Homo sapiens: one gene and its partner. The protein of the gene in region 2 purifies or fractionates together with the protein of the main gene of each other region. This does not show direct contact. Each region holds a gene or a part of one and is shown on either strand. Other genes may lie near its edges.

Region 1 (5,072 bases), on a different chromosome or scaffold from region 2:
AAAAACATTCCAGTTAAACTAAGGTCAGGCACCTATCATTGGTACCTTTGCACAGAGTCAAAAATTGAAAAATAAAGACATGAAATAAATAGTCTGAGCTCACAGTGCTCTGCATTCCCAGTTCATTCTTAAGTGTTGGTTCTTTCTAAGGCAGTGTATTGCTTTTCTTCATTTGTTCGTGCTCGTGCATTCCATAGACGTTCACCCACCACTTTCTCTAAGCCAGGTCCATGGGGACTCTGATGAGGGACACCCGGCCCCTGCTCCCAAGTTGCCCCAGTCCGATGGGAGGGAGGCAGCCAAAGAGACATCATGTCCCCTTGTGATAAGAGCTGTGGTGGGCACAAGTACAAGGGCTCTGAGAGCACAGGGGGCTGGGGAGCTCCCCAGAGGCACTAATATCTAATATCCTGAAAGCCTCAGAGAACCTGTCGAGGATTTTGAGCAGGAGCGTGATTAGATCAACTGTGTACTTTTACAAGTGCAGTAGTATATATTTGAAAGTAATATGCAGTCTATAAAGGAATTCCAGTGGTATCTAACTGGATTTCTTTTTACAGTCTTTGTCATTATTCAGATCTCTCGTGGAGTCTGACCCCTTTGGTGTAGGCTGTCTCCCTAAGGGAAAGTGGTTGAGTCTTATGCTTTTCAGCAGCCTGAGATCCCCAGGGCAGGCATCATTACTGCTGGCTAGATGAAAGAAGGAGACTTGCCCCCACCTCTGGCTCCAGCAAGTCCAAAGCCAGAGGCCACACAGAGAGAAGGGCATTTCACGCAGTCACTACCAATCCCCACAGCAGTCATGTCTTCTTGCAGACCCCGTGCCTATTGAGCTCAGCTAGACAGGCCTCTGTGGCTGTGATTTTGGGTCCCAGGCCTCTGAAGACTGTGCATCATATTTTTCAAACTAATGAGGTTCCTTAAACAGTGTGGCATTGCCACTTCATGTCTCCTCATTTCCCTGTCGGGTAGGAACATCTGCTAGGGTCCTGGGAAAGGCAATTAGCAAATTAGAGTTTTTGTTTTCTTGCTCAGCCATGATTGAAGCCCCAGAGCAGATCCTTCTGGATAATGTCATTAAGCATCCCCATCCAAGCATGACGTAGGAAATTAAGTTTGGTTTTGGGGAAAAGTGACGGAGGCATCCTTTGGCGTTCTTCAGGATGCTGGCTGCTTACTGGGTTGAGAGATGATGGTATTCCTGTCAGGAAGATGGATCCTGTTGTATGTCCCATGTGCCTGGCCCAGTGCTGCATGCTGTAGTGGAGATGAGGAGAGGAGAAATGTGCTAAGTGCCCACTCCCTCTGGCTGGAGAGAGAAGGCAGGGATGAGCCCGACTTGGCCACTGCTGTGTCCCTTGCTCTCAGCTGCACAGTGCCTGGCACTGTGTTCACTAAGCATTTTTTGAACGAATAAATGAGGGTTGGAAGCAGGGAAGGATGCAAAGCAGTAGCTAATAAAGGAGTAGACTGGATACAGCCAAGAGTCAGCTGCTCAGGAGTGAGAGTCCAACTATGATAGTGGCATTACTGGGCTTCATGTCCCCATATCCTGACTTTAGCCCTGGCCCTTTCTCTGCTTCATCCTCTGAAAAACAGCAGAGCATGAGCCCTCCCTGAAGCCCAGCACAACCTCTCCACAGTCCATATGTGTGTTCTGCCCCATGTTCAAAGTACCAGGCTTGTGTCTTGCATGGAGGGAGTAGTGCAGTGGCTGGGGGCACAGAAGTGCTGGTGAAAGTTTCCTGCCATCAGAGGAATGCCCTCAAGGTAGAAAAAAGCAGATCAGTAAGGCCTGAAAGATGTCCCCCTGGCTGGCTCAAGGGTGGACAGAGGTACAGGGCAGGCCCCAGGAGGCCTACTGGATCAGGGCAGGCTTCCTAGAGGAGGTGGAGCTCACCCTCATGGACTAATTATCTCTCAAAGGCTCCACCTCCAAATACTATCACACTGGGGCTTTGTGTTAGGCCATTTTTGCATTGCTATAAAGAAATACCTAAGACTGAGTAATTTATAATGAAAAGAAGTTTAGTTGGCTCACGGTTCTGCAGGCTTTACAGGAAGCACGGTGCTGGCATCTGCTTGGCTTCTAGAGAGGCCTCAGGAAGCTTACAGTCATGGCAGAAGGTGAAGGAGGAGAAGGCATGTCACATGGTGAAAACAAGAGCAAGAGGCGGGGGTGGGGAGGTGTCACACACTTTTAAATGAGCAGATATCTCTCCAGAACTCAGTCACTATCCCTAAGACAGCACCAAGCCATGACAGACTCACCCCCATGACCCAGACAGCTCCCACCAGGCCTCACCTCCAGCACTGAGGATTACAACTCAACATGAGATTTGAGCAGGGACAAATATCCAACCTATATTAGGCTTCAACATGTGAATTTGGGGAGGACACAATCAGTTCATAGCCAGGCACATTCAAGTGGTGAAATGGCAATGTTGGAACACATCCACAATTTAAAAGAGCACTCACCACTTACTGGAAGCCCTGTGATGTGCCAGACTTTACAGGTGTCTGCTCTGATACTTGCAAAAGCAGGTGAGGTTAGCACATAGTTAGCAGCACTTCCAACCAGTCTCAGAGAGATTAAGTTCTGGCCTAGGGTCCAACAGACAGGTGGGGATTCACATCTAGGTCTCCTGTCCTTCATTAGATTGCCCAGCTGCTAGTTTCCCTTAACGGCTTATCATTCATGGACATGAGCACTCTGCTGTGCGCCCTGTACTGGGGGAGCAGCAAAGGGGCTGTCTATTTACTTGCCCACCTTGTCACACCACAGTGTGAGCACTCTTCAGGATCTCTGCCTGCCTCTAGTAGGGACAGAGACTTTGAGACTATGATTGCAAAGGAGAGCACTGGGCCCTCAATGACCCAGTATGGGCCAAGCCAAGTACTAGTAAGAGGTCTTCCCTGGGGCTGCTGTTTGGCTGTTGCTTTCAAACATGTTTAAGTGTCTTTTCAGCAACAGCAACTCCACAGTTGGCATGGTTGTGTGCAAGGATAAAGCAGTTTCCCTTAGAAATTTTCTGTGTGGGCCACACAGAGCTGGTTACAGTCATTGCTGTGGAGAGGGCATTATTCTAAACAACATGGAGGAAGAAGTAAGAGCACAGGCTTGTCATATGGTAACTCTGGGGTTGATCCCAGTCCTGCCACTTCCTGGCTGTGTGACCCCAGGTTATGCAAGTTATGCAACCTCTCTGAGCCCGGGCTGCTATTGCAAAGAGTGCTGCGTATGTATGCAGTATGTATGCATGTGCTGTGTACATAGGTAGTTTTGTGCATTTGAGAACATATCTGAATAAATGCTGGAAGTAGAATTGCTAGGTCAAAGGGTCTGTATATTTGCAATTCTGAAAGATGGTGTTAATTTGCCATTTGCCGAGGCTAAACCAGTTTATATCCACTTTAGCAATGTATGAGTCTGTCTTCTGTTCCACACATTCTCCAAGCATGCGTTATCCATTTTTTTGACCTTTAATAAGCTGATAGACAAAAATGGCATTTCAATGGAGTTCTAACTCATTTCTTTTTCAGTATACATTGAGTATCTTTTCAAAGGAACCATTTGTTTTTGTGTAAACTGTTGATATCTTTTCATATTTTGTACTTGTATTCATTTGTAGGAGTTTGACATATATTTGTTGGTAATTTGTGTTGCAAATTTTTTCTTATGTTAAAACAAGTCTAACTTCTTTTACAAGTGCTTTCAGCTACACCGTTTTGTTATTTCCCATTTTCATTTCTTGTTTTACATATTTCTGTCTTCTCCCCCATTAAATGATTATATGGTTTATGTTTTATGTGTTTTTAAAAATTTAGTTACTTATGCATTTAAAGTATATTTAGTGATATGTGAAAATGCAAATTACATAATTTTTAGGTGAAATAATCTAAATAAAGGCCCATTATACCAATTTTTAAAAAGAAAATTCATTATAATTTATAGACCAAAAAAAAAGAGAGAATAAAGCAAAATTCCTCCAAAAGCTGACAATGTTTATATCTGGTTAATGAGATAGGAGAAAGAGGTGAATTCTAGTTTTTGTCCTTTTTTTGTATTCTCTAAAATTTAGACATTTATTTAACCTTTTCTAATTAATGAGCTTTATTTCTTCAGAATAGTTTTAGATTTAAAGAAAAACTAAACAGATAGTACAGAGAGGTCCCATATGCTCACTCCATTTATCACCCTAGTTTCCCCAATTATTAGCATCTTACATTAGTATGGCACATTTATCACAACTAATGAACCAGTATTGATACATTATTATTAACTTATTTTAATAATTAATATTAATAATTGTTATTAACATATTTTTTCAGATTTCCTTTTTTTCTCAGATTTCAGTTTTTACCTAATATCCTTTTTCTTCTCTTTCTTTCTTTTTCTTTCCTTTTCTTTCTTTCTTTTTTTTTTTTTTTGAGATGGAGTCTCCCTCTGTCACCCAAGCTGGAGTGCAGTGGCACGATCTTGGCTTACTGCAACCTCCACCTCCTGGGTTAAAGCAGTCCTCCCACCTCAGCCTCCAAAGTAGCTGGGACTACAGGCGTGTGCCGCCACACCTGGCTAATTTTATTTTTTTAGTAGAGACAGCATTTCACCATGTTGGCCAGGCTAGTCTTGAACTCTTGACCTCAAATGATCCACCTGCCTTGGCCTCCCAAAGTTCTGGGATTACAGGTGTGAGCCACCAAGCCCAGCCCCTAATATCCTTTTTCTGTTCCAGATCCCATCCAGGATACCACATTATGTGGAATTGTTAGGTCTCCTTAGGGCCCTCTTCACTATGATGGTTTCTCAGACTTTGGTTCCGATGACCTTGCCGGTTAGGTCAGGTATTTTGTGGGATGGCCTCCAGATGGAATTTGTCCTTTGTTTTTCTCATGATTAGAGTGAGGTTATGGGTTTTGGGGAAGACACCCAAAGGAAGATTTCATTATATCATATCAAGGGTACACACTATCAACATGATAGATTAATATAATAGTAATATAATAATATAACATAATATAATATGATACATTACATGATTAGCTTTAATAGTTTATATGTTTTATTGATT
Region 2 (5,617 bases):
GATTGGTCACAATATTAATGTGCCTGCACAATCCTCTCCAGGATGAATGAGGAAAGGATACTAAAAAACTGGTCTTCTGACCCTTTCGAATCAAGTGATAACACTTAGAGTTGTATCATAGGATATAGGTTTTCTGGTTTATTTTTGAAAGCAAAAAGCATATTTAAAGGTTAACTAAAAACGCACTGGATTTACAAAAAAGAAAAATGATATGTCTGAATAGGAGTCATTATTTTAAGACTAAAAAAAGAGAATCAAATGAAGAAATGCTGGAAAATTGGAATCACTTCCAAATTGCTCTATTTAATTTTACCATAAGCATAATAGTGGGTGAAGTTCAGCTAAAGATAGGGGCATGAAAAAAATGTGATTTGGTATTGCTCTTTAGGGAGGCAAATTAATTACAAATTAAGACCATCTGGGTTAAAGAATGAATTGTCACCTTTTAAGAACCAGGAATAAAGGTAAATGTTCACTTTAAAACAAAGGGAGAAAGAACATGAGAAAAATCAAGAGTAAATCCGTACAATATTACATACACACAAATTGGGGGAAATAAACATTGGCATGGAAATGCCACAAAATAAAATACCTATGGAATGTAAAAGTCAACTATGGTCACTGAATATTGAACCCAAAGTTATTGGGGAAGGTAGAATTTCCTTGTATTTCTTTCCCAGGGCACTGGGGAGGGAAGTTGGGGATAATCGGCTTCAGGAACTTGAACTCATTGGTCCCTGAGCCTCCTGCCAGACACACCTCATACTGGTAGCTCTGGGATAGGGTCCTGGTGCCGCTCATGTCCACAAGATGCCCTGGAAGGGGGCCCTCGGGCACCAAGCAGCGACCCACCGAGGCCGCCCTGCTCCTCCTACACAGCCGCACCGCCACGAACAGGAGCACCGAAAAGAGGAAGAGCGAAGACACCGAGGCCAACGCCACCACCAGGTAGACGGTGAGCAAGTCGGCCTGGGCCTGGGTCGGGGCCGCCTCCGGGAGAGGCAGGTAGGGCTGGGAGAAGCCGTCCACCAGGAGCACGTGCAGCGTGGCGGTGGCCGAGCGCGGAGGCTCGCCATTGTCCTTGACCAGCACCACCAGCCTGTGCTTGGCCGCGTCGCGCTCGCTCAGCAGCCTGGCGGTGCGCACCTCGCCATTGTGCGCCCACACGCCGAACAGACCGAGCTCCGTGGCCTTGAGCAGCTGGTACGACAGCCAGGCGTTCTGGCCCGAGTCGCCGTCCACCGCCACCACCTTGGTCACCAGGTAGCCCGGCTCGGCCGCCCGGGGCACCAGCTCGGTGCAGGGCGCGGAGCCGTTCTGCAGCGGGTACAGCACGAAGGGCGAGTTGTCGTTGGCGTCCAGCACCACCACGCGCACCAGCGCCTCGCTGCTCAGCGCCGGGGAGCCGTGGTCTGAAGCGCCCACGCGGAACTGGAACCCCTGCAGGGCCTCGTAGTCCAGAGACCTGAGGGCGAACAGGTGGCCGTTGTCCGCGTTGATGGAGACCAGGGATGTGAGGGGCAGGTGCGGGTCCTGGGGCGGCAGCAGCGAGTAGGTGACCTGGGCGTTGGTGCCTGAGTCTCTGTCTGTAGCGCTGACGCTGCGGATGTGCAGGGCGGGGCTGTTGTTCTCGCGGACGAACAGGGTGTAGGAGGTTTGGGTGAAGGCGGGAGCGTTGTCATTGACATCGGCGATCAGCACGGTCATATTGAGCTGTGTTATCAGCATAGGGGTCCCCAAGTCAGTGACAGTGATAGTGATGTTGTATTCCGCTCTGCTTTCTCTGTCTAGTGGTCTCTCCGTTAGTAGGGTGTAAAAGTTTTCCGCGGATTTCAGGAGGAAGGGTAGATCCTCCTGAATGGAGCAACTAATTTTCCCATTTTCTCCTGAATCAAGATCTGAAACACTGAAAAGTGCAACCACAGTTTCAGGCGCGTTCTCAGGTATTGGGCTGGTAAATGCAGACATGGTAACTTCTGGGGCATGGTCGTTCACATCTATCACTTGAATCAGAACGGTGCATTTTCCAGAAAAGGTTCCAGCATCTCTTGCCTCAATATTGACTTCATAGGACTGAAGTTTTTCGAAATCGAGTTGTTTTTTTAGTTCAATTTCTCCTGTCAAGGGATTGATCTTAAAGGTTTTGCCAATCTCTTCTGAAGCTTGGAAAAGTGAATAGGAAATCTCTCCGTTGACTCCTGTGTCTACATCCGTGGCAGAGACCTTCACAACCAGGAAGCCTACCGGACTGTCCTCAGAGATCTGCACTCTATAGAAAGGCTGCTCAAATTCAGGGGCATTATCGTTGACATCCAGGACTTCGATGTAGACCTGAGCAGTGCCAGATCTGGGCGGAGAGCCACCATCCAGTGCTGTGAGTGTTAACCTGAGCTCAGCTTCTTCCTCTCGGTCCAGCGCTTTGTCCAGCACCAGCTCTGGGTATTTCCTGCCATCACTGCGTTTGCGGGTGAGGACCCGAAAATAGGAGTTGGGGCTGATTATATAGTTCTCAATATTGTTTTGGCCTACATCTAAGTCTTCGGCATTCTTCAGAGGAAACGTAGTCCCAGGAGGACTGCTCTCTGATACTTTCACCAACATTTGTTTGTCCAGAAATACTGGAGAGTGGTCGTTTATGTCTATTACTTGCAGCTCAGCTTGAAAAAACTCGAAGGGACTCTCTAGCAACACTTGGAAACGTAGCACACAGGGCTCTGTGTGACCGCACAGATCCTCACGGTCCAATTTCTCATTTAGCAACAAATCCGCGGTCTCCTGATTGAGCTGCAAATGTAGTTTGTTCCCTCTGGAAACAACCCTAACCCCCCGCCTGGAGAATTCCCTCTGCTCCAGACCCAGGTCCTTTGCTAAATTGGTGACAAAGGAGCTGCCCTCAGTTTCCTCCACCACAGAATAGCTTCTAGGTTCCGCCGCGCCCGCCAGAGATAAGCCCAAAAGGAGAAAGGAAAAAAGGACTTGCCTTTGTCTGCAAATGAGCTTCCCGCTGGCCTCCATTGTTCTTGCTGGATTCAGCTTCCTGGGAGGACGGTTCTGTGGGACTGTAAAGTCCCCAGTATCTGAGGCTGTGGTTATTCTACAGATACCTCAGAAATATGCCAGTGAGTAGTCCTCTCCAGAGGACCCAGCCGTCCTCCCTTTGGCATCCAAGCTCCCCGTGGACTTCCAGGTTCTGCTGCTTTTTGCCGGTTAATGGAGCTGCAGCTGCGGTTCTGGTTTGTGCCTTCTTATCCTGCAGCGCCACCACGCGTCCTCACAGGATCTTACATTTTGTGGAATGATAATGGATGTAATATTCCCAACTCTGCCTGTATGCACCCCGAGACTATGTAAGGTTACAACACCACCGTTAATATCGCCGGACTTTAGTGAGCAGACAACTGCCCAAAGGAGAAATCACATTAGTCTTTCAACAATGATAACTGAGTTTTGGGCAGAAAGGAAATATTTAGGTAATAGTCTAGCTTGGCAAAAAGAATTTCAAATATAATTGTAGTTATCATGGACAACATTTAGATCTTTATAGTTTTATTTCCATGAACCATAGGAATAATTAGTAGCTGTGAACCTCGAACAAATTATTTAATCTCTCTGCTTTAGTTTGCTCCTCTGTAAAGTGAGGATAAGAACAGTACCTACCACATAGGGCTGTTGTGAATTCCCCACCTTAAACATGAGGAATCTAATGCAAATAGATATTAACCTTAAAAATAAGGTATATACCAAGTATAAAGCAATTTGATGCCATCAAGTAACTGAGTCTTGATGGCATAAATCCATCATAAGTCTAGCATAAATCCATTACTATAACTAGATAAACACCTCGAAATTCAAATGGTAGAAGAATACAGGAGCATGACTATCTCAGGTAGAGAGGTTATGTCCAATAATGAAAGGAAATGAACAAGGAAAGGCTGGAGAGTTTGTCTAAATAGAGACAATATCTGTAACAGCAGTGGTGATTTTGTTTCTGGGAAGGATGTCCTTTTTTATTACCTCCACTTCTAACAGCATCAATTAAAAGACATTATTTTGAAATTTTTCAAATCTCATAAAAGAGAGGAGTATAATGATCCTCCAAGGACTCAGTACTAGCTTCAACTATTATCAATGTTTTGCCATAATTCTTGACTCTATCCCTTCAACATTTTCACATCCCAGACAAACTGAATTTTCTCCCACAAATACGTCATTATACATTTCTTTAAAAGCATCATGACTTTAAATGACTCTAAAAATATGCTTAAGTACAATGCCATTATCATACCTAAAAATCAAGTTAACATTATTTAATACCCATCTATATTCAAATTCTTCCAAGTTTTTCAAAGTCATTGCTGTTGTTTCAATCAAGATCCAAAAAAGATCCACACATTGTATTTGAGTGGTAGACCTCTTAAGATTTTTCCTTGTGTAAACTTCACTCCTCTTATTTTTTGAGCCATTTATTTGTCAGAGAAATTGGATAATTTTACCCTGAGACCATGAAAGCAATTTTAGATTTTACTACTGTGAGTTTTTGTCCTTAGATTCTATCCCACCAGTGATATGCAGTAATACTAGCTTTATTAGAGTTACTGGCACTAGTTTATAATATATTTAGAACACAACTATGCAAAAATTACCTATTTTAAATATAAGAATCGGTTATATATTTTTAACAAACAATGCTTCTCCTTAACTCCCCAAAATTTCTAAAAATTTAATGATCATCTATATTTCTCTTTGATATTACACATTTAAATCTATTCTTTTTCTTAAATTTTCCTGATTCAGCAGTGCAGTATAGGTAAGAAAAACTGCTAAAAACAAACTCTCAAATCAGGAAAATATATTACAAATGTAAGCATGGGTGACTCTGGAAATATACTACAATGTAAAGAAAATAATTAACTAATAATGCCATCAAAATTATGTACTATTCCTAATCAGGACCATTAATCTTTTCTGTGAAATGATAGTTATATGTTCAGGAGACAATGAGAAGGCATAGGTTGCTCTTTCAATTTTGTTTTTTACTTAAGATTTGGGCAGATCAGAGCATTAGTAATAATAGCTGAAAATTTACCCAGAAAAGCAAGATTACTGGTTTATAAGAAAATGAAATCATAGATAAAGTTTATTTCTAAATAAAGATTGAACAGTAGTATGAATACGATAAAAACTTTTCTTCTCTTTAGTTAGGCAGAAACTTGCCAGGTGATATCCAATGACAAAAACAGTATGGAATGGGAGCAAAGTCACTGACTTAGAGTCAGGCAGATCTAGGATGGATGCTCAGTTTTGTCACTTATTAGTTAGTGGACCTTAGTGAACTTACTGAATCTCTAAGACCGTCTATTTGGTCATTACTAAAATACCATGTCACATATGTTTCTTCTGAGATTAAAAGTGTGAAAATAGTGTATGATTCATAAAACAACTTTTTTTAAAAAAATAAAGTTTAAAAAGGTACACTACAATCTATGCTTCTGAAACTAGGGTAGGTATACTCGAACAGCATTCTAATCAACTCAGAAAACAAAAGTCACAGTAAATATTGAAAACAATGGAAAGCAATTTAAAATATCTCAAACAAGACTTACCACTTAATAGACTT

What was found. The genes of interacting proteins can lie anywhere in the genome.
Region 1: the proteins of PCDHB13 (region 2) and SPSB4 purify together in Homo sapiens (co-immunoprecipitation; one large-scale study listed by IntAct). This does not show direct contact.

Annotation. Positions count from the first base shown.
Region 1 is NC_000003.12:141,057,323-141,062,394, forward strand, and holds part of SPSB4 (SPRY domain-containing SOCS box protein 4), read left to right. Parts: intron 1-5,072. UniProt on the Homo sapiens protein: Substrate recognition component of a SCF-like ECS (Elongin BC-CUL2/5-SOCS-box protein) E3 ubiquitin-protein ligase complex which mediates the ubiquitination and subsequent proteasomal degradation of target proteins.
Region 2 is NC_000005.10:141,211,522-141,217,138, reverse strand, and holds the start of PCDHB13 (protocadherin beta-13 precursor), read right to left. Parts: upstream 3,221-5,617; 5' UTR 3,016-3,220; coding exon 619-3,015; 3' UTR 1-618. UniProt on the Homo sapiens protein: Potential calcium-dependent cell-adhesion protein. May be involved in the establishment and maintenance of specific neuronal connections in the brain.